Homo sapiens: one gene and its partners. The protein of the gene in region 4 purifies or fractionates together with the protein of the main gene of each other region. This does not show direct contact. Each region holds a gene or a part of one and is shown on either strand. Other genes may lie near its edges.

Region 1 (4,319 bases), on a different chromosome or scaffold from region 4:
TGAACTCTTGACCTCAGGTGATCCACCCGCCTCAGCCTCCCAAAATGCTGGGATTACAGGCGTGAGCCAACGAGCCTTGCCGAAAATACACATTTTTAACCATTAGTGCAGCACGGGTGCTGACCAGGCTGAATTGATGCTGTCTGCCCTCACAGCCTGAAAGTAGATTCTATTATCATCCCTTCTCATAGATGAGCAAACTAGGCTCAGAGAGTTGATCCAGTTGTCCAGGTCAAACAGCTATTAAAAAGACAAAGCTGAGGGCTGGGTGCAGTGGCTCATGCCTATAATCCCAGCACTTTGGGAGACTGAGGTGAGTGGATCACTTGAGGTCAGGAGTTCAAGGCCAGCCTGGCCAACATACCGAAACCCTCTACTAAAGATACAAAAAATTGGCCAGGCGCGGTGACTCACACCTGTAATCCCAGCACTTAAGGAGGCCGAGGTGGATGGATCACGAGGTCAAGAGATCAAGACCATTCTGACCAACCTGGTGAAATCCTGTCTCTACTAAAAATACAAAAGTAGCCGGGCGTGGTGGCAGGTGCCTTTAATCCCAGCTTCTCAGGAGGCTGAGGCAGGAGAATTGCTTGAACCTGGGAGGCAGAGGTTGCAGTGAGCTGAGATCATACCACTGCACTCCAGCCTGAACGACAAAGTGAGACTCCGTCTCAAAAAAAAAAAAAAAAACACAAAAAACAAAAAATTAGCCGGGTGTGGTGGCGTGCACCTGTAATCCCAGCTACTCAGGAGGCTGAGGCATGAGAATTGCTTGAACCTGGGAGGAGGAGGTTGCAGTAAGCTGAGATCACACCACTGCACTCCAGCCTGGGTGACAGAGTGAGACTCTGCCTCAAAAACAACAACAACAAACTTGTTCCACTTGTTTGTGGAAGGAACGAACCAGATGGCTGGTCTCAGTAATAGCCAGCACCTGCCATGAAGAGCGCACAGCCTGGTTCAGAGACGACACATGAGCCTGCAAGTGCAGTGCTGGGTGTTTCTCACCTTTCCCTCTGCCTTTGAGTAGATGATTGTGCCTGCAGAGGCATTTTCCCTCTTTTGATTAGTCTCCTAGGTCAGCTGTAACAAATTAACACAAACTTGGTGGCTTGAAACAACAGAAATGTATTCTCTCACTGCTTTAGGCACCAGAAATCCAAAATTAGTTTCACTGTGCAGAAATCGAGGTGCGGATAGGACTGTACCTCCTGTGGCTCTTGGGGAGAATCTGTTCTTGCCTTGCCTCTTCCGGTTCTGGTGGCTGCTGGCATTCCTTGGCTGTAGCTGCCTCACTGCAGGCTCTGCCTCCTTGGTCACGTGGTCTTCTCCTCTTTTATATGCAAATCTCCCTCTGCCTCCCTCTAAACAGGTACTTGCGCATTTGCATTTAGGGCCCACCTGGGAAATTCAGGATACCCTCCCCATCTCGACATCCTTAGTTTAACCTCATCTGCAAAGTCCATTTTGCTACATAATTAGGATTTAGGGTATTTTGGGAGGCCATTATTTAGCCCACCACACCCTTTTCCTTCAGAATTTATTTTGTTATACAAGCCCTACTTTATTTATTTATTTATTTATTGAGACAGAGTCTCGCTCTGTCACCTGGGCTGGAGTGCAGTGGCGCGATCTCGGCTCACTGCAAGCTCTGCCTCCTGGGTTCACGCCATTCTCCTGCCTCAGCCTCCCGAGTAGCTGGGACTACAGGCATCCGACACCATGCCTGGCTAATTTTTTGTATTTTTAGTGGAGATGGGGTTTCACCGTGTTAGCCAGGATGGTCTCGATCTCCTGACCGCCTGATCCGCCCGCCTTGGCCTCCCAAAGTGCTGGGATTACAGGCGTGAGCCACCGTGCCCGGCCTACAAGCACTACTTTAATGAGATTTGCGGAATTTAAAAAACTTAAACTTCCTACTCATAGTTTCACTACACTACCAGGCCAACATTTCATTTTTGTCTTTCCCTTTTGTCCCTGAATATGTAAGCAAAGTCATATATAATCCCCCCACCCAGGGGAACCACTGTTAACTTTTTAGGTATCTCTTTCTAGCCTTTTCTTTTTTTTTTTTTTGAGACAGGGTCTCACTCTGTCACACCAGTGCAGTGGTGTGATCTCGGCTCACTGCAACTTCTGCCTCCTGGGCTCAAGAGATCCTTCCACTTTAGCCTCCTGAGTTAGCTGAGACTACAGGCGTGCACCACTGTGCCCAGCTAATTTTTGTATTTTTAGTAGAGATGGGGCTTCACCGTGTTGGCCACGCTAGTCTCGAACTCGTGGCCTCAAGTGATCTGCCCGCCTTGGCCTCCCAAAGTGCTAGGATTACAGGCGTGAGCCACTGCACCTAGCTGAGCCATTCTTTTATGATTTAGAAAACTTTCTCCAACAAAAACCAGCTCATGTCATACATGTGATTTTTGTATTCTCCCTTATCACCTCATAGAATAGAACTCGTTTTCTAAGTCAATGATTGAATGTACATCTACCAGATTATTTTACATGGCTGTATAGTATTTTATCATATGGATGTACATTTTCATTTTATTCAGGTTAAAGCTTCAAAGGTAGTTTACTTAAGAGAGTTGGGAAGAACCAAGGAAGTGGCCCCTAAATGATAGCCCTGCTTCATATTTATTGGACACTTTCTGTGTGCCAGGCATCCTGCCTTACCTGATTTGAACCTTACCACAGCCCTCTGTAGGGACTGTAATTAACCCATTCTACAAATGGGGAAGCTGAGTCTTGACTTCCCTGGATTACACAGCTGGGAAAAGGTGGAACCAAGGGCAAGCCCGAATTGCCTGACTCCAAACCTCTGTACCTACTGCCTCTGCAGAGCAGGACAGCTCTAATCTGAATGAGCCTGAAAGTCCCCTGGAGGCTGGACCCCATTCCCAGAGTCTCTGAGGCACTGGGACCCCACAATGTGCATTTCTGACAAATTCCTGGTGATGCTAATGCTGCTGGCCCGAGGGCCACACTTGGAGACTTCTGCATATGGCAATCTGCTACATTAGGTATAGCTCTTTTTTAGCACGATTCCTCTACAGGGAACCTCCCTGTCTGTCTCCTGCTTACCCATGAGGCTGTCCCCTTGCCTCCACCTTTTTAATTAATTAATTTGTTTTTATTTTGTTTTTGGCAACAGAGTCTTGCTCTCTCACCCAGTTTGGAATGCAGTGGTGCGATCATGACTCACTGCAGCCTTGACTTCTGGGCTGAAACAATACTCCCACCTCAGCCTCCCGAGTAGCTGGGACCACAAGCATCTACCACCATACTCAGCTAGTTTTAAAAATTTTTTTGTAGAGACAGGGTCTCACTTTATTGCCCAGGCTGGTCTCAAACTCCTGGGCTGAAGCGATCCTCCTGTCCTGGCCTCTCAAAGTGTTGGGATTATAAGCGTGAACCACCGTGCCTGGCCCCTGTCCCCACCTTGAGTAAATCAAGCATGTCTTGAAGTCTAGACCCAAGAGAATGAATCAGTGAGGTCCCAACAGGGGCTCCCAAGTTAAAGATGAGGCAGCCTTAGCCTATGAACTTGATTCTTTTGTTGCATGTTGAGTTCTGTGTGTATTTGTAACTCTGAGCCGTGAGCGTAGTCTCCTTTAGAAGTTCTGCCCTTAGCTCAGTAGGCTGCTCCGTATTTGGGAAGAGTTATGGTGGACAGCTGGACCAGAGAGTAAAGCCAGGGCTGTGCTGTCCTCTGGCCAGTGTGGTGGGGAAGGAAACTCCGACGGATCCCTATCAGGGCCACTTGTCCTGGCCATGTACCTCATGTGGGGTGGCTCTTGTTGCCTGCTCCATTGGTTAGATTTTATGCATAGCAAACCACCCAAAACTTAGTGACTTCTTTAGGATGACAGCCATTTGTTTAGCTCATGATTCTGTGGGTCAGCATTTTGGAGTGGGCTCCATTTCTTCAGGTCTTGCGGTTGGGTCTTGCAGATGTGCCTGCCCATGGTGGGCAGGTCAGCTGGGGGCTGGTTGCTGTAGGATGGCCTCAGCTGGGGCGCCCTGTCTCTGTTCTGTGTATTCTCTCATCCTCTAGCAGGCAAGCCTGGCCATGTGCTCATGGTGGCTGGCAAAGTCCTAAAAAAAGAGTGGAAGCAGCAAGGCCCCCTGGGACCTATGCTCAGAGCAGGCATGATGGATAACAGTCACTTCCAAGGCATTCAGTTGGTCAAGCAAGTGGCAAGGCCAGCACAGATTCAAGGGGGTGGGGGAATAACTGTCATCTCTTGATGGAAGGAGATGCAAAGTCACATTGCAGAGCATGTGGATACAGGGAGGGGTGGAGCATGGTGGCCATTTTT
Region 2 (4,319 bases), on a different chromosome or scaffold from region 4:
ATCAAGTCTGGTTGTCTAAAAATTCCTCCTTCAAAGACAGTCAAGTTTCCCTTTGTCTAATTTCATTCTCTTTTTTTTTTTTATAACCACTACTTTCCACTTCAATAAACCAACTTCCTGCCTCGAGACACATTCTGGCAAATGTGTCAGTTTGTATTGTTCAGATGAGAGACTTCTGTCATTCTTTCAAATTTTTCCTCCATGACAATAATCCCCAGAGCCATCCTCTCAGGAGCCTGAGTTACTTGTCTGTGAATTTCCTTTCACTGCTTCTTACTCTACTGATAAATCAATGCAGACCGCCTGCAGTGAACTTACTCAATTCGTATCCCTTCTGATCACATCTTTTTTTTTTCCATTTCCCCTATCCTCTCTTCCATCGCATCAGAAGAAGGGTTCTTATGGATTTCGAGGCTAACCCACTGCCCTCCACTTGATTTTGGGTCTAGCCCCATCTCTCTACCCTGGACCATGCACTCATTCCTTCCTCCCTTTTTCTTCTTTTAATATCCTCCTCTCTACCTGAGCCTTCCTCAAACCCAAGCTATCTACCATGTCTCTCTCGGATCAGTTCCTTGAAAGGATGAACTAACCAGGCCACCTGCAGTTCATCAGCCCCCGTGTAGTCCTCAATTTTTTGCATTCTGGATTCCAGGTTCATGAACTGACCTGACAGCAGGACCAGGGACAGTCTGTTGGATACAGCTTTGTAACGAGTCTGTTGCACTGGATGGCATGATTAGTTCACTTACGTTGTGCTTCTTCCCTTGGCCACCATCATCCTCCACTTCTCTGCAGATCCTGCTCTATCTCCTCTCCTAACTTCTTTTTTGCCTGACCATTTCTAAATATCAGGAGTCCCCTGAAGACTGTATGCTTGCTTCTCTTTTTACTCTACATACTCTTGTTCGGGGAGCTCAACCATTCTCACTCTTTACATAACAGCCCTATAGAGATGATCCATTAGTCCAGGCTTTGGCCTAAACTCCAAGCCTAAATTTCTAAATTCTTGCTTAACATCTTCATATGAATAATGTCAACTAACAGTTCATACTGGCTTTTAACACCCCAAGTACAGAACCATGCCAGAGGTAGGACTATGAAGAGGCTGAAGATACTGGCCCTGGAGCTGCACCTGCCTGAGTTCAAATTCTGAGTCTGACACACATGATCTGTGTGATCCTGGGAAAGTTACTTAGCCTCCTTGTGCCTCAGATTCCTCATCGTAATATGGGATTAATCTAGGTTGAAATATTTAAGGTGCTTAGAGTAGTGCTTGGTACATAAAAAGTATAACCTACCAGGTAAGTGTTACCTATTATTATTGTTATTCTCCTAAAAACCTGATAAGATAGGTATTATTATTTTATCCATTTATACAATGAGAAAATTAAGGATAATGTGGGTCATGATGGAATTTCAAACTCCAGATGTTCAAATCTTAACTCATATTTCCCATTAAAATTCAACTTTCACTTAGCCAGGCATGGAGGCATGTCCCTGTAGTTCCAGCTACTCGGGAGGCTGAGTCAGAAGGATTGCTTGAGCCCATGAGTGCACAATGATCACAACTGTGAATAGCCACTGCTCTCCAGCCTGGGCAACATAGCAAGACATCATCTTTAAAAGAAAATTAACTTTTGTATACGGGCCATTCTTGATTTAGGGTGTTCTGTCCTTCTCCCTCCCCTTGCCCATATACCCACTAGAAATACCCAATCTGCTATTTCCAGAGTCATTTTTATAAAACAATAGTTCCCTTACTTCTTCTTTTCTTAAAAACATCCTGTTTTAAGGTACAATCTTGTCACTCTCTTTAAAACCCTGTAAGATTTGCCCCAATATAGCTTACGTCTTTTCAAACAATATTGTTCTCTCTTTTCTCTAAATCGAATCTCACTCTATTCTACATTTTGCTCCAAACCCAAGTATGCTCATCTGTCCCCACTGCCTCCTCAAAATCTCCTCCCCACCCTTTAAGACCCAGTCAAATCCCACCTCTTCTAATGAAACCTCAAGAAACCCAGTCTCTTCCTTTGCTCTGGTGACTAGTCTAGTTCACAGAATGCTCTTCCCCAACCAACCTCCAAAAGGACCAATAAATAGATGTTTAAAATTTTAACATATTTTGTATTTCTCGAGTAATGTAATATAGATGTAATATACTGTAAAAAAAAAAAAAAATACAAAGTTCCCTTCATCCCAACTCCCATAAGCCATCCCACTTGGCAGTTTTTCATGCACTGACAAATGTAAACCATACACGTGTGCTTGGTTTTTTACTTCTTAAAATATATATAATAGACATCTGTACAAGTCAGTATATTCAATCTTTTTAACAGCTAAACAGTATTCTAAATCTGCATTTTATTACAGTTATGAATAAGGTGTGCCATCTCTTTCTGCCCCCATCTCCTGTATGTGAATACTCTTAAGGTAAAGATCATGTTTTGTTTGTCTTTCCGTCTCCAAGAGGATCTTGTACCAAGGCTGGGAATTGCTTAACACGTGCTTAATGAAATAGTAACAACAATATCTGTCATCAAAGCAGTGCATGTCGTGTGCCAAGAAACCAGCTGTTAGTGCTTCACATACATTATCAGATGTAATCTTCATAACCACCCAATTATTCCCATTTCACAGAAGACTTAACCAAAATCACACAGCTAGTAACAACAGGGGATTCTAATCCACATCTGTCTGACTCTGGAGTCCCCGCCCTTCATCCCTATGCTATAGTTAATAAAATTTTTATAAGGACATCCTTATAAACCAAAGCTGGAAAACAGAAGAGTTCCAAGTAGTCTGGTGTGGGCAGGTGGGAATGAGGATAAGAGACAGGAGGCGGAATAAATGCCAAGTAGATGGAGTCAAGGGATTGTAGCTATAAACCTACCGAGAACCTTCTAGGAGAAAGAGCTGAATTCTTTGCCTCCCCCTTTCAGACTCCCCACTACACTTCCCTTTGGTAACAGTGCCACCATTTGTTGAAGATCTTCCATGTGCTGAATATGCCATTATTATTCCTATTAATAATTTCTGGCCGGACGTGGTGGCTCATGCCTGTAATCCCAGCACTTTGGGAGGCTGAGGCCAGCAGATCATCTGAGATCAGGAGTTTGAGACCAGCCTGGCCACGATGGTGAAACCCTGTCTCTACTAAAAATACAAAAAAAAAAAAAAATTAGCTGCTCATGCTGGTGGGGACCTGCAATCCCAGCTCCCTGGGAGGCTGAGGCTGGAGAATCGCTTGAACCCAGGAGGTGGAGGTTGCAGTGAGCCGAGATTGCAACACTGCACTCCAGCCTGGGTGACAGCACGAGACTGTCTCAAAAAAAAATAATAATAATTTCTAATTATTTCTAATCCTTCAAAAAATGCTATGGCACATATATCAGAGCTACCATTTTATAGATGAGAAAGCTGAGACCCAGAGAGGTTAAGTTACTTGCCAATATTAGACTGTAATAAATAGCAAAGCCAGGATTCAAGTTGAGGATCTGCATGGCTCCAAAGTCCTGTTTTTCTCGTACAAAATAACACGTTTTTATTTTTAAAGAAAAGATGAACTATGATTTTTAGACATCTAGACTCAGTTAAGATCACATTTGGCTGCAAGTAACTGACCCAAGTTCTGTGGTTTAACCAAGTAGAGATTTTATTTTTCTCACAGAGTCAAGAAATGGGTCCAGTAGAGCAGTTGCAGAATGCTATCAGCTTCTCAGCCTCCTTCTAACCTTCCACCCACTCATCCTTAACCCTCAAGCATCTTGTCTTTGGTCACGCGATGGCCTGCTTACTTTCTCCAGGGAAGAAGTACAAAGAGCAAAAGGCTTAACAGGCAAGCTCACAGAGGCTTCCCCTTTTAAGAGCTTTGGGGAACGGGGCATCCAGCTATTTACATCTCATCAGCCAGGACTACTGTCACTGAACCACCTCCCAGCTGCAAGGGATTCTGGGAAATCTAGCACTTAACTGGACATAGTGGTGAATTAAACAAAATGGGTTCAGTTACAGAAAAGGAGGGGGGAATGGATATCAGTTGGGCATCCAGCTGTGTCTTTCCCACATGAAGTGCAAGTCATCCTAGAGAATCAAATTCCCTTAGTAGAGAAAAACAATAAAAGAAACTTAATTCTGTGTTTAGTAGCTTTCTCAGTTATGCAAAGTCACACATTGATGGGGGTGGAGGATGGAAGGATCTGAAAGTTTGACAAAACCATCCAGGCAGCTGATCCAGAGGAAAAACACCGAGATTCAGGTGACTTCACACAAATGGCCCTGGCAAGATCACAGGTTCAACCAGTGTGTCTCCTGTG
Region 3 (4,319 bases), on a different chromosome or scaffold from region 4:
CATGTGAAAGGAGATTATTCATTCTTCTGTACTTCTCCCACACTTTTATAGCCCCATGCAGAGTGTAGGCTTTGAATGTTTGATGACTGGCAAAGCTGAGCTAATCTGATTTTTAATGATGATGTTTCATAACACTAATTTTGTGTAGTGATTAAAAGCATGAATTCAGGAACCAAGCTGCCTAGATATGAATTCCAGTTGTGCTTCTTTACTATCAGTGTGTACCTCAGTTTACTCATCTGCAAAACAAAATAGTGGTACCTACCTTATAGAGTTATTATGAAGATGAAAAGAGTTCACATATGTAAAGTGCCTAGATCGATGCCTAGGCCAGAGTAAGTGCTGTATAAGTATTAGTTATTATTAAAATAAATTATCTTTGTTTTAAGAGATTCAGTATAAGTAAAGGGAAAACTTGTAAAGCAATTTTTATTTTACCTAGTGCATATAATTATTACATGTTAGACAATTTATGTTAATGAGATACAGGACCAATCCTATAGAGAATCATTTTTAAAACAGCAAGTGTCTTATTCTGGAGAGCTAGATTTATAAATAAGCAACAGGGTAATGCCCACAGTATTTCCTACCCCAGAATATCTGTTACTGGCATCTGCACTTTCATATTTGGACTTATTTTTTCTTGTATAGACTTTTACTTTAGTAATGTTAAAACACTCCTTGGGAACAGATAATGTGAAACTCTTATCAGCAAAGCCTTAGAAGAAAAACTGATGTGGGTGAGAGAATAAAGGGAGGATACAGAAAGGAAAGATTAGAGGGATGCTAAAGCAGCCTGCTTAGGCTTGATCTTATTAAAATAAGTATTCAGGACAGAGTTAGTCTTATTCTAAGGTAACTAATGGTTTTGCCATCTTTGTAGAAAAGATATGCTTTGTAATAAATACATCCATAAAGTATGTTGAAAATTCATGCTTTGAGACAACTGCTTTTGGCCTTTAGTTCCAGCTTTACCTCCTCTCTTCTCTCTTTCACTCTGTGTGTGTGTGTGTGTATGTATGTGTCTGTGCATGCGTGTATGTGGCTTATAGATTACAAGAAAGTAAAAAAAACAATGGAATAATCAGAAATAAAATTTTTCAATGCCTTGCCTGGCTACTTAAAAAAAGATTCACTTTTCACTTCCTTCTTTAATCCCTTAACTTCTGAGCTCACCTATTGTCTTTGGGAAGAAGCAGAAGGAATAATCCCATAACTACCCTCTGGGCTTCATTTTTCATTCTCCTCCCTCAAAGTAAGTAGAATGTATTAGAATTTATTTGCATAGTAAATATATTGGTACTAGAGTGCAGATTTGTAGGCTATGCCTTCATCGCATGTTCAATGTAGTGTGAAGGAGAAATATTGCTAGGAACTCAAAAGTTTGCTAACTTAGGAAATAGAAATATAATGTACTATAGGATAGCATAATAGGCCGACCGAACTGAGATGGTATAAGAAACTAAGAAAAGCTTCCTGGTGGAAATTATTTTAAACTGAGATCCAAATGATTACTTTAGCTAGGGAGGGAGGGATTAGGTAATTGATGGGTACTCTAGGCAGGGGTGAATTTTTCACAGCATGTGTGAATTTTTTAAATTGGGAAGGTAGCAGTGGCACTTTGAGGGAACTGAGTTTTTTATTTGAAATGGAGAAGAGATGAAAATTGCCATCGCTTAACCAACACATTTTGATTACTATTTTATAGGTAATTTCTGGACAGAAACTCACACGACTATTTACATCAAATCAGATATTAACAAGTGAATGCTTGAGTTGCCTTGTAGAGCTACTTGAAGACCCCAACATAAGTGCTTCACTGATCTTAAGTATTATCGGTTTGCTGTCTCAACTAGGTAATGCATTTAATTTCTCCTTTTTAGTTTTTGGAAGATGTATGAACAATATTTTAAAGTGCAGGCTTAGTTATAGAATCTCTTAAAGAATGATTCACCTTCAAAGACTTCTCAGTCTAGTGTGCATTGTGAATCTTTTGACACTGAGGAAGTCATAGCTACCGATCAAAGAATGATCCTTCTGTAATAGATTACACTGAATTTAGAACTAAAGGGTAAAAGTACTGATGTTGCTTTTTCTATCTTTTCCCCCATTTCTTTAGTTCTTAAATGTTCATTTAGTGGTCACTACTCCAATTTGGGGCAGGGCGGTGGGGATATTTCTTTGTGTGATTATAATAGTAATATATGCATAGTTTAAAAAATTCTAGTGATCCAGAAGTATTAACACAGAGCAGCATTGTCCAATAAAACTTTCTTCAGTGACAGAATGGTTTTAAAACTGTGTTATCCAATGTAGCAGCCACTAGCCACATGGAGCTATTAAGCATTCGAAGTGTGGGTAATAGACTAAGGAACTGAATCTTTAATTTTAATTAATCTAAATTGAAATAGCCACATGAAGGCTAGTGGCTACCAAATTAGACAGCCCAGACATAGAGTAAAATGGGGTGAGCCTGTACCCATTACCACCAGCCCTCATCTTTTCAGCTTTGAGGGTATAATCTCATTTAATGGTTTGGTATGTTTCTTTGCAGATATTTTTCTGTGCTGTAACAAAACAATACTTTTGGATCTTTAATTGGTTGTTTTCAGCACAAATGGTGTTGTGGAGCACCAGATGTTTCTTTCCATATCAGTATCTTTAATAGCTGCCTAGTGCCTTAATTACAGGGTACTGTAATTTATTCAACTATTCCCCTAATAGTGGACAGTCAACTGTCTTTAAGTTTTTGCTATTGGAATCAATAGTGCAGTGAACATTCTATGTAATTTTGCTCAAATATTAGTGTGTTTCTATTAGATAAATTCCATTAGAATTTCTAGATCATTCTAAAATTTGATAACCGTTACTAAATTGCTTTCTGAAAAGATTCTTCCACTTCTAACATCCACCAACAGTTTGAATGAATATGCCAGTCACTTCCAGTGTTTATACTTTAGAAGCATTTGAGGTTTCCAGAAAAATTGAAATGATAATCTTTTTAAATTAATTTTTTCACAGATACATAATATTTATACAAACTTATGGGGTACATATGATATTTTGTTACCTGCATAAAGTATGTGATGATCAATTGAGGGTATTTAGGATATCCATCACAAATGAGGATTTATCATTTCTATGTATTTAGAACATTTCAAGTCATATTTTGAAATATACAATACATTGTTAACTATAGTCACCTTACTCTACTATCAAACATTAGAACTTATTCCATCTGATTGTGTGTTTATATCCATTAATCAATCTGTCTTCATCTCCCCCACTAACGGCTCCCCCTCACACCTCCCATCACCACACACTCACCCATATTCTTCCCAGCCTCTGGTAACTGTCATTCTCCACTTCCATGAGATCAACTTTTTTAGCTCCTACACATGAATGAATACATGCAATATTTTTCTTTCTGTGTCTGGCTTATTTCACTTAACCTAATGGCCTTCAGTTCCATCCGTGTTGCTGCAAATGGCATGCATTCTTTTATATGGCCAAATAGTATTCCATTGTGTAAATATACCATAAAGTGATAATCTTTTAATATTCAAAGTAAATGATTTTAATTTGATACTAAAATAATTAGTATCAAAGAAAAAGCTTGCTACAAATGTGTAAACAAGTTTTTTCTTTGATACTAGTTTATTTTACATAGAGAAATCATTTGAATTTCTGAATTGGAGGGTTATCATAAAGAAAATAAGAAAATAGCCATATCATACCTTTTTTAATAATAAATTCATATGAAATAAATTCTGTATGAATTATCTGCAAAACCTTGTAAGAAAATGATATATTTTGTGCTTTTATTTTAACTTATAGCAGTAGACATTGAAACCAGAGATTGTCTTCAGAATACATATAATCTGAATAGTGTGCTGGCGGGAGTGGTTTGTCGGAGCAGCCACACTGATTCGGTGTTTTTGCAGGTATACAGACCCACACAGTGTATTCCCCTTTCCTTACTGTCAGATCAAAATTGATAGTTTCTGTCATAAACTGCTGACTTACAGTGTATATATGCTATATAATAAATACTACATGATTAGGCACAGTTCATCTCATTAAAAGCTGGTTGCACACATACAATTTAAATGTTTCTAGAGAAGAGAAGCTTATCCATTTCTATCACCACTATTGAAGAAAAACAAATCTACATTATAACTGCTTTGACTTATAAACACAGATGTCTGTGTTTTGAGACATAAGCTATTTATATTAAAATTGTAACGTGAGTTGGCATCTAGTCTCAATCTGTGGAGGAAACGTTCTACAAAAATTAAAGCTGTAGATAGAGTCTATTT
Region 4 (4,319 bases):
TCTAGAAACAAGACTAATGCCACCTTCTCCCCCAGGTGTTGTGATCCTCTTGATGGAGCACAGAGCTGGCTCAGAGTCAGTCCTCAATACAAGGGAGTGGCTGCTGATGGTGCTGTTAATAATAATAATAGCCCGGAAAGACCTCCAGAAGCCAGGCCTCGCCACTTCTAGAACACCTGTGTCCCACCCCCACCCACACTGCGGCCTCCACTACCCCTGAGATCCCCTCATAATATTAGGAGTAATATCATCTCCCTTAGATGATATTATGAATAATATCACAGGATGTACACCCACTGTGCTATTAGGAGTAATATCATCTCCCTTAGATGGCCCAGTGTATAGTGGACTGTCCCAGCTCAAATACCACCTCTTCCTGGAAGCCTTCCCTTCTTCCCTCACCCAGAAGGCCCTTCTCCCTCCTCTGAAGACCCTTAGATTTGGCCTTCACCTCCCCTACGGCATTGACCAGTCAGAAAAGGGCGGTAAATAGCACCTACCAGGGCCAGCCCAGACATTTTCTCATTTAACCCTTACTACACCATTGGCCACTGCATTATCAGGTCCATGTGCCGACGGGGGGACTGGGGCTCTTGGAGATGACATGACTTGCCTGTGAGTGGCACGTCATGCGCTCAGCCGTGCAGCCCCTGAGGGCAGGTGGCAGGTGGCTTGTTCACCACCAACTGCCGCTCTGTGACACACGCAAATGAGGAGCAGCTTCTCCTGAGCTCACTCTCAAAGCCCTTCCTGCTGCAAAGGCCCCTCCTGTACCCCAGCTGCCACCCCCTCCCCGCCTTCCTGCCCACCCCTGGGTCTCTGCTTACCTGGCCCACGGAGCCATCTTCAAAGCCAGTTTGCGATTGATGCAGAAGCCAGCACCCCCAGTGGCAAACCAGAACTGTACCAGCCTCTGAGAGAGAGGAAGGCCAAGGGGCAGAGTGAGCCTGGTGGCAGTTGTGGGGAAAAGGGACAGCCAGGCCACCCTTCACCCCCAACCAGCATGGCTCAAAAGCCCTTTATTTTGAATCTCACTAGAGTCTTGCTACAACCTGGCATTATTGCACCCATTCTATAGATAAGAAAACAGAGGCCCGAAGTCACATAGTTAATTATGAGTGGTGAGGTCACTGATCAGACTCAAGTCCAGCTGAATTCCAGTTAAAGGGGACAGGTGTTGTTTTACCCACCCAGCCACCATGCCCCTTTCCCCTGAGAAAGGTCTCTACCTCACTCCATGTGGCTTGGGAGGGGCTGCCGAACATGGCACCTGCTCTCCTGGGCCACAGAGGTGGGCCTAGGTTGACGGGGCCTGAGTGTGCATAGGAAAGATGTGGCTGGGAAACAAAGGTCAGGCTGTGTCCAATACAAATCACTAACACTTTTTTTTTTTTAAGAGACAGAGTCTTGCTCTGTTGCCCAGGCTCAAGTGCAGTGGCACCATCTCTGCTCACTGCAACCTCCGCCTCCCAGGTTCAAGCGATTCTCCAGCCTCAGCTTCCCAAATAGCTGGAACTACAGACGTGCGCCACCACGCCCAACTAATTTTTGTATTTTTTAGTAGAGACAGGGTTTAACTATTTGTTGGCCAGGCTGGTCTCAAACTCCTGACCTCAGGTGATTCACCTGCCTCGGCCTCCCAAAGTGCTGGGATTACAGATATGAGCCACCGCGCCCGGCCTCAGATCACTAACACTTTCTAGTGTTGACTTCGTGCCAGGTCTCATTCCAAGGACTTGGAGAGATGACCTCATTTCATTCTTTCTTCTGTGTTCACGACCACTCTTTGAGTAGGGGCTGTTATCACCCATTTCACAGATTAGGAAACTGAGGCACAGAGAGGTGAGGTGACCTCAGTCAAGGTCACAAAGCCAGGAGGTGGCAGGGCTGCCGTGTAAACCCAGGGAGTCAGGCTCCAGCGTGCAGTTCTCCACCCCAGAGGCAAACTGCTTAGGCAGAGGTGAGTCGCCAGCAGTGAAGTGGTGTGAGAGCCTGGGGGACCCCCTGGCTCCCCTGGAATCACTCATACACAGAGCCCTAGGGCCCAGAAGAATTTAATTAAGGCTCAGAGGCTGATTAGCTACTGATAATTAAGGCTCTGTGTTTTCTGCTCTTGGTTTTCCTAATGAAGCAGATGGGGACCTGGGAAGGGAGGTTGAGCCCCGCTGTGTGCCCAGCTCCTGCACCAGGCACTGCCTCTAGAGAGGGACCTCCCGATCTGCCTTCTTCCTGGAGCCAAGGGAGCCCTAGGGCCAGGACCACTCTAACACCTGATGCCCAGGGGGTCCTGGGGACAGGGAGAGAACCATGCAATATTTGGGACATACTTATACTAAAAATTTCCTCATTATTTATGAGAAAGTCAAGTTTAACTGGATGTAGTGGTTTTTCATTTATTTGTTTAATGAATCTGGCAACCCAAATCAGTGTCCATCCAGGTCAGGAACTGAGGCGGGTACAGAGCCCCCTGTTTTGCCAGGTGTCGACTCTTCAGTCACAGGCTAGTGGAGGTGTCTGGAGGGAGAGGGTGCCCCAGGAGGGGAAGGTGGGGAAGGGTTCTGGGGCTCAGGTGGCAGCAATCACCCAGCCCCACAGTATTCAGCAATTTTTTTTTTTTTTTTTGACGGAGGGACGGAGTCTCGCTCTGCCGCCCAGGCTGGAGTGCAGTGGCACAATCTCAGCTCACTGCAACCTCCGCCTCCTGGGTTCAAGCGATTCTCCTCTCTCAGCCTCCCGAGTAGCTGGGACTACAGGTGCCCGCCACCATGCCCAGCTAATTTTTGTATTTTTAGTAGAGACGGGGTTTCACCATATTGGTCAGGCTGGTCTCGAACTCTTGACCTCAGGTCACCCACCCACCTCAGCCTCCCAAAGTGCTGGGATTACAGGCATGAGCCACTGCCCCCAGCCATTCCAGCATTTTAACAACCTGCACACCTACATGGGGACACCAGGTGACTGGGAGCCCTGCTGTGGTGTCACACAGCCTCAGCTCACCTGGATGCTCCCTGAGTGACCAGGACAAGCCGTGGTTCCTGGGGGATGGAGGCCTCACTATGTACTGTGTCTGTGCCACGACTGCATGATCTCAGTCTCCCCATTTCACAGAGGAAGAGACTGAGGGTTGAAGAGGGGAAGCTACCAGCCCAAACCCACATAGGGCCAAACCTGAAACCCAGAACCCCTCTCACCTCTCTAGCACACCCCCACCCCCAGGACCGGCCCGGCCCTTGGGATCAGCGGGCCAAGGGGCAAAGGAGGAGGAGAGGGACCCACCGTGCGGTTGTGGGGCTGTGGCTCTGAGGCATGGATGGGCCGGTTCAGGCTGGGCCTTCCCACATAGACGTCGCGGGCCAGCGGGAAGGCTCTCAGAAGCTGCAGCAGCGCCCTTGGGTTCACATAGTTGTCATCGTCCACATGGCAGAACCACCTGTAGGGATGAAACGGGGACAGTGAACTTGTTGGGGGGGTTCCAAGCCAGGGTCCCCAAGCACCCCCACAGTCGGTCAACAGTGACGGAATGGGGGTAGGGGTGGGAGAGGCTGACATTTAAGGCATCTGTTTTGTGCCAAGTTGCATATTGTGTAAGCTCATGAGGAGGGTACCCACTTCACAGTTGAGGACCAAGACTGAGAGGTTAAGACACTCGCCCTGGCCAGGTGTGGTGGCTCACGCCTGTAAGCCCAGCACTTTAGGAGGCCGAGGCAGGTGAATCACCTGAGGTCAGGAGTTCGAGACCAGCCTGGCCAACATGGTGAAACCCCGTCTCTACTAAAATTACAAAAGTTAGCCAGGCATGATGGTGGGCATCTGTCATCCCAGCTACTTGGGAGGCTGAGGCAGGAGAATCGCTTGAATCCAGGAGCGGAGGTTGCAATGAGCCGAGACTGCACCATTTGCACTCCAGCCTGGGCAAGAAGAACGATACTCTGTCTCAAAAAAAAAAGCCATTTTCCCAAGGTCACATACCCAATCCTGAATGTCAGGACTGGAACCCAGCTGGACTTCCCAGCCATCTGCCCACTGCCTGCTAGAGGAGTGGGGGCTGAAGTCAGACCCCAGGAGTCCCAGGGGTTATTTTCACTGGGCCCAGACCACACTTATCCCCAGAGACCCAGGAACACTCGCCTAAGCCCACTGGCCAAGAAGGTGTCGAACTCAGCAGCCATCTTGCAGGACAGAGCTGGGTGGCTGTGTTCCGCGGAGCAGTTGGTGACCACAAGGTGGGACCCTGGAGAAGTGAGGAGGAGTCAGGGGACCCTGCCCAGGTCCCCCCTTCAGAGCCCTGAACACAGAATACAGAGCAAGGCTGGGCAACA
Region 5 (4,319 bases), on a different chromosome or scaffold from region 4:
AAAGGAAAATAGTGTTGAAAATGTCATGTGCATAATATGATCCTATTTTACATAAAAAGCAGCATAAATATGTACATATATACACATAAAAAGTCTGGAAGGATATGCACCAAGTTTAATCATGGTTGCCTCTGGGGATTAGGATTTCAGTACAGAAGAGAGAAAGAGATGATCACCTCCCACACCTGTGTGGCTTAATTTTTTATTAGTATGTTGGGCTTTACTTTTTATTTTTTATTTATTTATTTTTTTGAGATAGGGTCTTGCTCTGTCACACCGGCTGACATTGGCTCACTGCAACCGCCACCTCCCAGGCTCAAGCCAGCCTCTCAGGTAGCTGGGACTACAGGTGTACATCACCACACCCAGATAATTTTTGTATTTTTTTGTAGAGACAGGATTTTGCCACGTTGCCCAGGCTGGTCTTGAACTTTTGAGCTCAAGGATCCACCCGCCTCTGCCTCCCAAAATGCTGGGATTATTAAAGAGATTTAAAGAATACAAATTATAATATTACTAGTGATTTTCCTTGGGTTGTGGGATAATGATAACCTTGATTTTCTTCTCCATTCTCATCTGTGTTTTCCAAATGTAAAAACAAATGAACATGTCATCCTGATTACTTTAATATCACAATGGATTTGATTTGCCTTTTCCTTAAAAACATGCAACAGAAATAATGCCTGTAAGTGTAATGAAGACTGTTATAAGCATTAAAATCATAACATACTTGAACTGAGGGAGTCAGTTATGATTTCAGATTAATCTTCCTTTTCTTCTAGATGAAGCATGTGATGAAAGTTCTAGAAAAACATGAAATTCAGCCCTATGAAATCGCACTGGTACACTGGGAAAATGAAGAACTTAACTACATAAAAATAGAGTAAGCAACTTTTCATCAAATTTATGAAAGGGGCACTTGGAATAAATTAGGTAAAGCAATAGAGGAGACAAATTATTATGCATATGGAAACTTTTTTTTTTTTTTTGAGACGGAGTCTCACTCTGTCGCCCAGGATGGAGTGCAGTGGCACAATCTCGGCTCACTGCAACCTCTGCCTCCCGGGTTCAAGCAATTCTCCTGCCTCAGCCTCCTGAGTAAGTGGGACTACAGGTGTGCACCACCACGCCCAGCTAATTTTTTGTATTTTTAGTAGAGACAGGGTTTCACCATGTTGGCCAGGATGGTCTGGATCTCGACCTGGTGATCCGCCCACCTCAGCCTCTCAAAGTGCTGGGATTACAGGCGTGAGCCACTGGACCTGGCCTGGAAACTTACTTTTAAGAAAAAAGTGGCCAGGCGTGGTAGCTCACACCTGTAATCCCAGCACTTTGGGAGGCTGAGGCAGGTGGATTACCTGAGGTCAGGAGTTCAGGACCAGCCTGGCCAACATGGTGAAACCCCATCTCTACTAAAAAATACAAAAATTAGCTGGTTATGGTGGCGGGTGCTTGTAATCCCAGCTACTCGGGAGGCTGAGACAGGAGAATTGCTTGAACCTGGGAGGCGGAGGTTGCAGTGAGCCGAGATCACGCCATTGCACTCCAGCCAGGGTGACAAGAGTGAAACTCCGTCTCAAAAAAAAAGAGGAAAAAGATTACTGGTACAAATACAAAGTCTAAACCATATAATAAATATTAGAAGATAAACATAATTTTTTGAACTTCTCAGGCTATCCACAAGTTAAAACAAGTCAGTAGTATAGCCCCAAAATGGAAATGTTAAGTTTCTAATCAGCCTAATCCAATAAAATAGTATGCATTTATCAAATGAACCTATCAAATTATTCCAGTAAATTTTTCTCTTAATCCAGTTTTTTCCTATTGATTTTGGGGGGTGGGGGTATGAAAAGGAAGTATAGTGAGGGGTCAATCTAAGAGACCCACTTGTAGAAGTGTGGGTGCTGGAAGAAGTGGGACCTGGTGTACCAGTTTCACTAAGATAAATGGGTAGGCAACAGACTAGCTGATTTTCCTGACTCAGCCAGAGGGAAAAAATGAAGAGATGTTAGGGCCGAGACAGAGGCAGTATGAACAAGATGGTAGTGTCTTTTTCCTCATGGAGTTACCTGTCTAGTGAAATATGAGTCTTTGCAGGTTCTTAAGAAAGGTAGTGTTAGCCAGATTTGGTGGCTCACACCTGTAATCTCAGCACTTTGGGAGGCCAGGGTGGGAGGATCAACTGAGTCAGGAGTTCAAGACAGCTTGGCCAACATGGCGAAACCCCATCTCTACTAAAAATACAAAAATTACCCGGGCATAGTGGCGAGTGTCTGTGATCCCAGCTACTTGGGAGGCGGAGGCGGAGGCAGAGAATTGCTTGAACCTGGGAGGCAGAGGTTGCCATGACCTGAGATCGCACCACTGCACTCCAGCCTGTGCAACAGAGTGAGACTCTGTCTCAAAAAAAAAAAAAAAGCGTTAAAAGCAGAGCTTTGGGAAGACTTGGAAGAGAGACAGAGACTAGCTATAGAAAGACCAGATGGGGATAAGAGCTGAGTAATCAGCGCTCACCACCAATAGGGCCAGTCACGGTTTTCTAAGTAAGTGCCTTCCATGTATTATTTCATTTAATCCTGGGGAAAACCCTATAATTGCAGCTAACTGGCTTTCCGATGAGATTTATTGAATCCTGTCTTGCCAAAGGGCACCTGACTGTGAGTCAGCCTGAGCCCAGTGGTGGCTGCAGTCAGAGGTAAGGATATAAACCTGAGAGAGACAGCAAATGAGCAGCCTGTAGTTTTATTATCTTTAGTAGTTACTCAGCCCTTGGCCTGCAGATACAGCTCCTGTGAATCCCCTTTCTGTGTTCTATTAGGTTTACATTAAAATGGCAAAAACCGCGATTACTTTTGCACCAACCAAATACTTCCATATCCAACTACTGCTAGACCCTTGTGTGTGTGTGTGTGTACGCTTATCCACACACACACACACACGTTACTGTACAGTCTGTGAGGAGTAAAATCCTCAGTGCTTAGGATCCCAGAGTCAGTTATTTTGTTTCGTCAGAAAGACTGTCCTGGCTGCCACCTACATGGTTATTATGTGAGTTCTGCCATGATTCCAGGGATCTGCTCAGCTCTGTGGCATGGGCCCAGTTTACTCATAAAGCATCTTGTGACCAAGCACAGTGGCTCATGCCTGTAATCCCAACACTTTGAGAGGCCAAGGCGGGCAGATCACTTGAGGTCAGGAGTTCAAGACCAGCCTGGCCAACATGGTGAAGCCCTGTCTGTACTACAAATATAAAAATTAGCTGGATGTGGTGGTGCACTCCTGTAATCCCAGCTACTCAGGAGGCTGAGGCAGGAGAATCGCTGGAACCCAGGAGGCGGAGGTTGCAGTGAGCGAAGATCACGCCACTACACTCCAGTCTGGGTGACAGAGCAAGACTCCGTCTCAAAAAAAAAGACCTCTTGTGACTGCTGTCTTTGCTTTCCTTCCTCCATCTGAGGCTGTCATAGCAGATGCCGCCCTCCATCAGGCCCCTTGTCCCCCTCCCTTTGGCCGTCACTTCTTGTCTGACATCTTTTGTGAAGGTTTACCCTGTCTTTTTTCCATTTGCTTGTGATGTTTATATTCACACATTCCGCTCTTCCCCTGTCCCCTGTCTAGGATTCTCCACAGTCACATACTCATTTTTCACAACTTCCTTGCCTCCCTCCCCAACCCCATCATGTCAGTGTGATTTTAGATTACACTCCATATATAGTTTTATATGCAGCATTTTTTCACATAGAAATTTACTGTGAACGTTCTCCTTTTTATTAACTATCCTTCCAAAACACACTTTTAAGTTTTTCTTGTGTGGAGTGACTATTACTGAGCCAACCCCTACTGAACATTTGGTTTATTTCCTAATTTTTTACTCTTAAACACTGACCTTTTTTTTTTTTTTGGAGACAGAGTCTTGCTCAGTCTCCCAGGCTGGAGTGCAGTGGCGTGATTTCGGCTTACTGCAAGCTCCGCCTCCCGGGTTCACTCCATTCTCCTGCCTCAGCCTCCCGAGTAGCTGGGACTACAGGCGCCCGCCACCACACCCGGCTAATTTTATTTTGTGTTTTGAGTAGAGACGGGGTTTCACCATGTTAGCCAGGATGGTCTCAATCTCCTGACCTCGTGATCCACCTGCCTCGGCCTCCCGGAGTGCTGGGGTTACAGGCGTGAGCCACCGTGCCCAGCCAACACTGACCATTTTTTTAAAAGTTTTCAGCTGGGCAAGGTGGCTCGCACCTGTAGTCGCACCACTTTGGGAGGCCGAGGTGGGTGGATCATTTGAGGTCAGGAATTCAAGACCAGCCTGGCCAACATGGTGA
Region 6 (4,319 bases), on a different chromosome or scaffold from region 4:
CATTGGGTGCCGGCTGGGCCGGTGGGTTCTGAGGCTGGGTCTCCGCTGGCGGGTCCCTCCCGATGCTGCCATTGCTGGTCACCTGTGGGGGACAGAGGCCAGGGTAAGGAGGGAGAATGGACACGGGGGCTGTCTTAGACACCATCATGCATGAAGGCCAGGCACAGGCTGGGCAAAGAGTGGGTGCTTATCAATAACTGGAGAATGAATCAGTGAAAACACCTGGGAAGGTGCGGTCCTCTTCTTTTAGGAGGAAAACACTCGCAGAGCACCTCTGTGACCTAGGGACAGTGGTGACCTAGAGAGTCTTTTGCTGTCCTCCTGGGGTTTAACAGCCCGGTGGGGGAGAAAGATTCATCTCTAGACAGTGACTGTCCAGAACGGGGCAGGAATGCAGGAGCCCTGAGAGGCACCTGGTCCAGTCTAGGGTTCGGGGCAACTTCCTGGAGAAGGGGGCATTGAAGCTGAGACCTAAAACATAGCAAGTTGGTGGCACAAAGGAGGAAGTGAGAGAAGCAGCAGGTGCAGAAACAGAAGATTAGAGGCACAGTCTGATTCTGATGACTGTCCACTGTTCCCTGGGGCTGGAGCCAGGATGCAAGGAGGTGGCTATTGGGGACAACAACAGAAGGAGTCTTATGGCAGGTGCCAGATTCTTCAAGGCTGGGGCTTAGCTGAAAGAGCCTTCCCTGGGCAAACCATTCCTGAGGCCCCCTCTGTGGCCAACCCTGCCCTCCAAGGGCCCCTGGTCCAGCAGGTGGGACAGACACAGAAAAACACAACCAGACTATCAGCTGCTACCATAAGCCACGGCCACAAGACATGTCTGTGACAGCACACAGCACACTAATCCTGAGGCCAAAACTATGACCAGCTCCATCCGGCTGCTGAGCAAAGGGAGGCTCAGAGAGGTGAAGCCACTTGTCTGGTCACTCAGGAAGGACCGCAGAAGCAGAATGACAGAAGGGAAGGGGGGCAGGCAAGGGAGCCAGGCACGGCTTCCCAGAGGAGGACTCTTCACTCAGACACAGAAGGTCACAATCAGAGACTCTCTGAATGCCAGGTTTGGAAGGGGATGTTCTGCTCACCCTTCACGCACCCTGCTAGCTCCCCAGTCCTGTTCTCATTCACCCCTCCTCCCAGCTGTCCCCTCAGCCATCAGCCTTCAAGAGGCAGGACCAGGGCTATCACAGTCACAGTTAGCTCAAGAGCACCAGTGGCACAGAGCAAGGCTGTGATAAACACCTGTGTGGCCACCGCTGCCTGAAGGACTCACCCCGGACGCTCAGGTCACCCAAACCCACTTCCCTCTGAGGCTCCAGTGTCTGGCCCTCTCCTCCACAGCCCCTAGTCCACTCCTCTGCAATGTTTTCTCCATTCACCTTACCCACCAGATAGCAAATGTCCCAGGAGCATGGTTAGAGGGGCTACATGTGTTAAATGTGTCACTTGTCACCTCCTGTCCCCTTCACCAGCAAGAGCTCTTTCCTGTAATCTCCCAAAGCACAGGACACCATTGGAGGGGCTCCAGGGTCAAACAGACCTCAGCTATAGTCCTGGTCCCACCGTTCTTGGCTGTGACACCTTGGGCACATCACTTCACCTCTCTGACCTGTGGACCAGGTTGTGAAAATACTGGAACATTTTAGACAGAAATCTGGGCCCTGCTTACCCAGAGCTGGGGATCTAGAAGGAAACACACTAGAACGGTAAACAGGATAATTAAAAATGGTACATGGAAAACAAGCAGGGGGAAGTGACAGCAACTGAGTTGGGAACAGGGATCCACTTTGGAGTGGGTGGTCAGAGAGGCCTCCCTGAGGAGCTCCCTTTGACGTCTGGGTCGTCTGGGTGAGACCCTTAGGCTGAGACAGAGAAAGCCACATTCTGATGAGGAGATCTATGGGGCGGGGGTCGGCTGGGGAAGGGAAATCAGACAGGCACAAGGCCCCCTCCTCAAGGCCAGCCTAGCTATTGGGAAATTTAGGGGTCCAAGTATGGGTTTCAATGGGTCTGAGCTGATTTGGGGTCAGGAAAGGACACTTGATGCCAGGTCAGGATTTGAAGCTGCATCTGACTGACTCCCAGGTCTCTTCGCTTACCCGTTAGTGATGGGCAATCTGGCTGGGAACCTTCCCACGGAAAGGCAAGTTAAAACCACAATGAGGTGTCACTTCACACCTATTAGGATGGCTATCAGCAGAAAGACAATCACAAGTGCTGGCAGGGATGTGGAAAAACAGGAACCCTCGTATGCTGCTAGGGGGGAAAGTAAAAGTACAGCTACTTCGGAAAATATGGCAGTTATTGAACAAGTCATATGTGCACCTACTACACAATCCAGCAAACCCATCCTGAATGGCTACCCAGGAGGCAGAAAACATGAAGCCAGACCAGGCGCAGTGGCTCACGCCTATAATCCCAGAACTTCAGGAGGCCAAGGCAGGAAGACTGCTTGAGCCCAGGAGTTCAAGACCAGCCTGGGCAACACAGCAAGACCTCATCTCTATAAAAATACAAAAATTAGCCAGGTGTGGTAGTGCATGCCTGTGGTCCCAGCTACTCAGGAGGCTGAGACGGGAGGATCAATTGAGCCTTGGAGAATGAGGCTACAGTGAACCAGGATCACACCACTGCACTCCAGCCTAGGCGACAGAGCATGACTCTGTCTCAAAAACAAACAGTGGCCAGGTGTGGTGGCTCATGCCTATAATCCTAGCACTTTGGGAGGCCAAGGCAGGAGGATCCATTGAGCCCAGGAGTTCGAGACCAGCCTGAGCAACACAGGGAGACCCTGTCTCTCTTACTTAGAAAAAAAAAAAAAGAAACAAAATACAGCCACAGAAAAGCCTGTACATGAATGTTCATAGCAGCATTATTGGCAACAGACAAAAACTAAAAACAATCCAAATATCCTTCAAGGACTGAAAGAATAAACTGTGTCATGTCTGCAGACTACCACTGAGCAGTGAAAAGGAACAACTGTGAGCACGTACTTTAGGATTTCCCCAAAGGCCAAATTTCCCTGATCCTAGGTTGTAAAAAATAAAATAAAAATGAACAACTGCAGATCTATGTAACAACATGAACCTCAAACCCATTATGCCCAATGAAAGAAGCTGGACACAAAAGACTGGATGTTGTTTAGATCCTTGTTTAAGACATTTTTAGAAAATTACAGAGATAGCACCTCTGTGGCTGCCTAGGATTGGGAGCAGCAGAGACTGTAAAAGGGAACTTTTTGAGGGGACAGAAGCTTTCTCAGACCAGACTGTGGTGATGGCTGCACCACACAACTGCATAAATGGACCAGGAGCCAATGGACTCTATCCTAAGAACAGGTGAACGTTATACCATCTAAATTATACCACAAGGCTGGACGTGGTGGCTCACGCCTGAAATCCCAGCACTTTGGGAGGCCGAGGTGGGCAGATCACCTGAGGTCAGGAGTTCAAGACCAGCCTGGCCAACCTGGTGAAACCCTGTCTCTACTAAAAATACAAAAATTAGCTGGGTGTGGTGGCAGGTGCTTGTAATCCCAGCTACTTGAGAGGCTGAGGTAGAAGAATTGCCTGAACCCAGGAGACGGAGGTTGCAGTGAGCCGAGATTGTGGTGAGAAAGCGAGACTCCGTCTCAGAAAAAAGAAAAAAAAAAAAAGAGTCACTCTTTTCAGCTCCTATTTCCCTCAGAGTAAAGGCCAAGTCCTCCCCATGGCCTCCAAAGCTTGGCATAATCTGCATCTGTCCCCAGCCACCCCTCTCCCCTCACCCGCTCCAGCCTCCTCGCCCTTCCTTCATCACACCAGGCACCTCCCACTTTAGGGCCTTCGCACTGGCTGCTCCTTTGCCTGAAAAGCTTTTCCCTCGTGTATCTTTGGGACTCCCTCTCTCACTTCCTTCAGGTCTTTGTTCAAGCGTCACCTCCTCAGAGAGGCCTTCTAGACTACCCTATTTAATTGCAACTCTTCTACCCACCCCTCACTTCCTATCCCCATCCCAGCTTTATTTCTGTCCATGGCACGCAGAGCCATCTGAACTGCTGTTTTTCTTATTTATCTTGTTCACTGTGTGTCCCTGTCTGTGCTTCCCCTATAAATTCAGCTCCAACTAGAACATAAGTGTAAGGGCCTTCAAGAGGGCAGCACCTATTTTATTCACAGCTGTATCTCCAGCATCAGCAAAGGCCTAGCATGGAGTAGACTCAATTCGCATTCGCTGAAGGAAGGAATGGCAAAGCTGTGGGTTCTGTGTCCGAGTTCCTGGCTACAGGAGCAGGCTAGCTAAAGCAGCAGACTGTGCAGAGGGTGTGCCTGCTGTGC
Region 7 (4,319 bases), on a different chromosome or scaffold from region 4:
GCCTCGGGCCCTTACTCCCTGGCCCTTGGTCATTATTGTTTCTAAAACGTTTGTCTCACCTGCTACCTGAAGAAGGTCCCGCCCTCTGGCCCTTGAGGCCCCGAGTGCCCAGGAGCTGCTGCCATCAGCATGGATGGGTGGTACCAGGCAGGCTGTGGGTGCAGGGTGCTTGGGGAGGGCCAGGTGTGCCTTGGGACGTGTGAAGTGGGAGCCTGGAGCAGGGAAACTGAGGCCTGCTCTCGCCCCTGCTGCCCACAGCTTATCTGCCCCCTGGAGACCAGCCGTGCCTGACCCTGGGGTCGTCAGCTCAGTCCTGCTGGGTCCTTCCTCCACCCCATCTGCTGAGAGCTCCTCCAGGGCAGGGTCTGAGCCTGCCAGGCCACAGAAAACACTGGGCGGATGACAGCTGCCTGTCCCTTCCTCGGCAGTCTGCATGCAGTAGTGCTGGCCTTGCTGCCTGCCCCTGGAGCCATCACTGGCTACCCCGCCTGCTTCAGAGCTGCCACCCCTGGGGCTTTCTGACATGTCCTCATAGGCGGGGGTGGCCTGCAGTGGCACCGCACCACTTGCCAGGCACTGTGCCTCCCTCCCTGCAGGGAGGTGTGCGGTCAGATCAGGCAGTTGCCAGCGGACACCAAGAAGCGCTTTGTGCTCCCCGGGGTCCCTCCATGCCCCCCACCCCCACCCCTGCCCAGGGCAGTGTGAGGGGAGGAGGGGAGCAGTGTGGGTACACTTCCATGTTGCCATCTGGGGAATCCTGGCGGGGGGTCAGGGCCCTTCTGGAGCTGCTCCCCCGGGCAGTGAGGGGCCCTGTGGGCTCCTAGGCTGCCTGCCTGGCCCTGGTTCTACTTGGCCTGAAGCCCACCCACCCCAGCGTGGACAGGAGCCAGGAGGAGGAGCCCTCTAAGAATGACTGCAGCCTCTCCCGGGGCTGAGCCCACACACACACACCGGGCATATCCACAGCCGCCACCACGTTTTACCCACCTGTCCAGTGTCCTGACGCCTCCAGCCCAGCGTCATAGCGAGCCTGGCAAGGACATGCTTCATGCTGGGCTCCTGCCGCGCAGGGGAGGGTGGGAGGTGGAGTCTTCCTTGGGTCGTTTCTCCCTTGTGCACGCACCGTTACATACTGTGCAATGCGTTGGTGTCTTGGGGGACAACCCAGCAAGTAGAGTTGGTGTATACGTCATGGCTTCCTCTGGGGTCCTGGGCTGGCTGGTCCGCTGGGCACCCCCCCCCCAACCACCACCAGGCCTTGGCAGGACCCTGGGACTGGGACTGGAGGTGACCCTCGCTGGCCCCTGCCCACCTTCTGTTCCTGCTGAGTGGCTCTTTGGGTGGCACCATGCCCAGGCTGTAAACAGCTGGTGAAGACTGCTGGCCTCAGGCGGCTGTGGCTCTGCGACTTCTCTGGATGCGGTATTGGTGGCTCCACCCACCAGCAGGAAAAAGTCAGGTTGTCCCTCCAGAGGAGCCAGGCCAGGCGCTGCAGGGCACTGTGGTGGTCATCCTGGGTAGCCATGTGACCGTGGCATGCTCCTTGGCATCTCTGATACCGGGTTTTGAAACGACTGAGAGCTAAGTGCAGGAGTTGGTTGGCATTAGAGGCGAAGCCCAAACTCCTGTAGTGGGGACTTTGACTCAGAGCAGCCCTGGTAGCCCCCCTCATGCTGCGTCACAGCCCTCACCTCCTCTCCCCGTCTCCTTGCAGGAAGTTCTACTACATCACCCTGCTACGAGACCCCGTGTCCCGCTACCTGAGCGAGTGGCGGCATGTGCAGAGGGGTGCCACGTGGAAGACGTCGTTGCATATGTGTGATGGGCGCACGCCCACGCCTGAGGAGCTGCCGCCCTGCTACGAGGGCACGGACTGGTCGGGCTGCACGCTACAGGAGTTCATGGACTGCCCGTACAACCTGGCCAACAACCGCCAGGTGCGCATGCTGGCCGACCTGAGCCTGGTGGGCTGCTACAACCTGTCCTTCATCCCCGAGGGCAAGCGGGCCCAGCTGCTGCTCGAGAGCGCCAAGAAGAACCTGCGGGGCATGGCCTTCTTCGGCCTGACCGAGTTCCAGCGCAAGACGCAGTACCTGTTCGAGCGGACGTTCAACCTCAAGTTCATCCGGCCCTTCATGCAGTACAATAGCACGCGGGCGGGCGGCGTGGAGGTGGATGAAGACACCATCCGGCGCATCGAGGAGCTCAACGACCTGGACATGCAGCTGTACGACTACGCCAAGGACCTCTTCCAGCAGCGCTACCAGTACAAGCGGCAGCTGGAGCGCAGGGAGCAGCGCCTGAGGAGCCGCGAGGAGCGTCTGCTGCACCGGGCCAAGGAGGCACTGCCGCGGGAGGATGCCGACGAGCCGGGCCGCGTGCCCACCGAGGACTACATGAGCCACATCATTGAGAAGTGGTAGTGGCGGTGGTGGCCACGGGGAGGCCTCTTGGGGGGTGTGGGGGATAAAACAGGACAGACGACAGGTCCACCCAAGACTGTCAAGGGATGAGCATCCCAAACCTGCTCCACAGAGGTAGCTGCGTCCTGAAAAAAAACAGAGCAGGGATGTAGTGGGGCTGGGCAGGGATGGGGGCTTGAGAAATCAACAGGTGCAGCCCAGTGGGTCAGAGGAAAGCGTGCTCGAAGGATGCCATGGTCAGGGCAGGGCCTCCAGAGCAGGTGTTGTGCCTGGAGCTGCTCTCCTGGCCTCCTTGGATTTATCGCAAAAACTGAAGGTTTGCGCAAGAGACGAGGACAGCGGAAAGTGGACCTGCCAGGCCGGGAGTGTGTCCCTCACCAACTATGCACACAGCACTCGCTCTTAGCTCCTCTGTCCGGGCTACTAGGAGTGAGACCAGCTTCTGGCAACTGCCCCAGCTCCAGGCCATCCCATAGCCCCTCCTCTTCTGGCTGCCCCCAATGCCCCGAGGCCTGGGGAGCCCCCAGCTCACCCATCTGTAGCTCCCTCAAAGTCAGGGCCCACCCCATCTGAGGCAGAGAAGACTCGAGTCCAGCCCCCAGGAAGCCTGCTCCCCTCTCTGGCCCATGGTCCTGCTTCATGCTTTGGGTCAGGAGGCCAAAGCTGATGTTCAGGCCCCACCCACTCCCTACAGTCCTCAGACCAAGGAGGGGTTTGGGTAGTAGGCCCGAGCTGCATTGCCGGCCTTCCTCGGGCCAACTGGCAGCCCAGGAGTGGGGAGGCTTTGGCCAGGGATGCTGCCACTTGTGCGTGAGTCCGCGGCTGGCCCTTGGAGGTGACCATCCAGGCAGGCCTGGCTCAGACTGGAAGGGCTGGGGACCGAGGGCTCCCCTGCCTCTGTTCTCCTTTCTGACCCACTGGGATTTGCTAGCAGGCTGCCCCAGCCCCATCACCGAAACACATACTCAAGAGCTCAAATACCACTGCTCCCACCAGCGTACGGATTAAGTTCATCAGGCTTCCATCGGCTGGAGCATGGGACCATAGCCCCTGCCCAGGAGCCGTACCCTCGGACCACAGTGGCTCTGTATGGCCAGGAACTGGGACTCGAGCTTTCAGATTCTCAACTAGCCTTGGCAAAACAGCTGTAGGTGGCCTCCCTGACAACAGACACTCAGCCCTCCCCACCCTGGCTCTCCTTGCATTTCCCCATGCTCCCCACCCCCTGGCAAAAGGCTGGCCATGCTCTGTTCCCAGCAGCCGCGCAGGTTTCCCCACTGGCTGCAATGGCCCTACCAAAAGCCATGTTGCATATCCGTTGTAAGCACGTGCCCTGTGCCCTGTCCCCATTCCTTATGCCCTAGGAGGCCAAGCTGGTGTCTCTAGGAGGGCCCACACAGGCACCCTGGATCCCCCAGAGAGTAGATTGGTGTGCTCAGGCCGCAGGCTGACTCAGAGGTAGGGCAGTGGGCTCTGCAGGCCACCTGGCTGGGGTTGGTGGGGGTCCTCTCTCCTGCCCCAGCTTCCACTCAGCCACCACAGTTGCCACACCATGGGGTGGAGACGTGGGTCACCACGGGCTTGGGAGCAAGCGCCTTCTGCAGCACAGGAAGCCGAAGCTGGGGTCAGGTGAGGTCGCTACCCCTGGAGGTCTGGCATAAGGGCCCCACCCTCAGGTCTCCTACACTGGCCCCATTTTACTTTGGGGTCCAAGGACAGGATGGTCAACAGGGCAGGGTGGACAGCGTGCCAGCGCCGCGCAGGGCCACCTCCCTGGGTGGATGCATCACACTAAGGAAGTGAGTGCCAAGGGGATTTAGTGGTGTGGTTCTTTCAAAGGGAGGTCAGGGTCAATGGGAATCTGCTCGGACACTCAACATGGGGGTGGGTGCACTC

What was found.
Region 1: the proteins of MFNG (region 4) and HAPLN3 purify together in Homo sapiens (affinity purification with mass spectrometry; one large-scale study listed by BioGRID and IntAct). This does not show direct contact.
Region 2: the proteins of MFNG (region 4) and PPFIBP1 purify together in Homo sapiens (affinity purification with mass spectrometry; one large-scale study listed by BioGRID and IntAct). This does not show direct contact.
Region 3: the proteins of MFNG (region 4) and CIP2A purify together in Homo sapiens (affinity purification with mass spectrometry; one large-scale study listed by BioGRID and IntAct). This does not show direct contact.
Region 5: the proteins of MFNG (region 4) and RMND1 purify together in Homo sapiens (affinity purification with mass spectrometry; one large-scale study listed by BioGRID and IntAct). This does not show direct contact.
Region 6: the proteins of MFNG (region 4) and CLPTM1 purify together in Homo sapiens (affinity purification with mass spectrometry; one large-scale study listed by BioGRID and IntAct). This does not show direct contact.
Region 7: the proteins of MFNG (region 4) and HS6ST1 purify together in Homo sapiens (affinity purification with mass spectrometry; one large-scale study listed by BioGRID and IntAct). This does not show direct contact.

Annotation. Positions count from the first base shown.
Region 1 is NC_000015.10:88,881,830-88,886,148, reverse strand, and holds part of HAPLN3 (hyaluronan and proteoglycan link protein 3 isoform 2 precursor), read left to right. Parts: intron 1-4,319. UniProt on the Homo sapiens protein: May function in hyaluronic acid binding.
Region 2 is NC_000012.12:27,530,325-27,534,643, reverse strand, and holds part of PPFIBP1 (liprin-beta-1), read right to left. Parts: intron 1-4,319. UniProt on the Homo sapiens protein: May regulate the disassembly of focal adhesions. Did not bind receptor-like tyrosine phosphatases type 2A.
Region 3 is NC_000003.12:108,582,602-108,586,920, reverse strand, and holds part of CIP2A (protein CIP2A), read left to right. Parts: intron 1-1,708; coding exon 1,709-1,856; intron 1,857-3,837; coding exon 3,838-3,944; intron 3,945-4,319.
Region 4 is NC_000022.11:37,476,069-37,480,387, forward strand, and holds part of MFNG (beta-1,3-N-acetylglucosaminyltransferase manic fringe), read right to left. Parts: intron 4,232-4,319; coding exon 4,129-4,231; intron 3,431-4,128; coding exon 3,277-3,430; intron 914-3,276; coding exon 828-913; intron 1-827. UniProt on the Homo sapiens protein: Glycosyltransferase that initiates the elongation of O-linked fucose residues attached to EGF-like repeats in the extracellular domain of Notch molecules.
Region 5 is NC_000006.12:151,424,046-151,428,364, reverse strand, and holds part of RMND1 (required for meiotic nuclear division protein 1 homolog), read left to right. Parts: intron 1-782; coding exon 783-883; intron 884-4,319. UniProt on the Homo sapiens protein: Required for mitochondrial translation, possibly by coordinating the assembly or maintenance of the mitochondrial ribosome.
Region 6 is NC_000019.10:44,957,726-44,962,044, reverse strand, and holds part of CLPTM1 (putative lipid scramblase CLPTM1), read right to left. Parts: intron 83-4,319; coding exon 1-82. UniProt on the Homo sapiens protein: Involved in GABAergic but not glutamatergic transmission. Binds and traps GABAA receptors in the endoplasmic reticulum (ER).
Region 7 is NC_000002.12:128,266,266-128,270,584, reverse strand, and holds part of HS6ST1 (heparan-sulfate 6-O-sulfotransferase 1), read left to right. Parts: intron 1-1,714; coding exon 1,715-2,423; 3' UTR 2,424-4,319. UniProt on the Homo sapiens protein: 6-O-sulfation enzyme which catalyzes the transfer of sulfate from 3'-phosphoadenosine 5'-phosphosulfate (PAPS) to position 6 of the N-sulfoglucosamine residue (GlcNS) of heparan sulfate.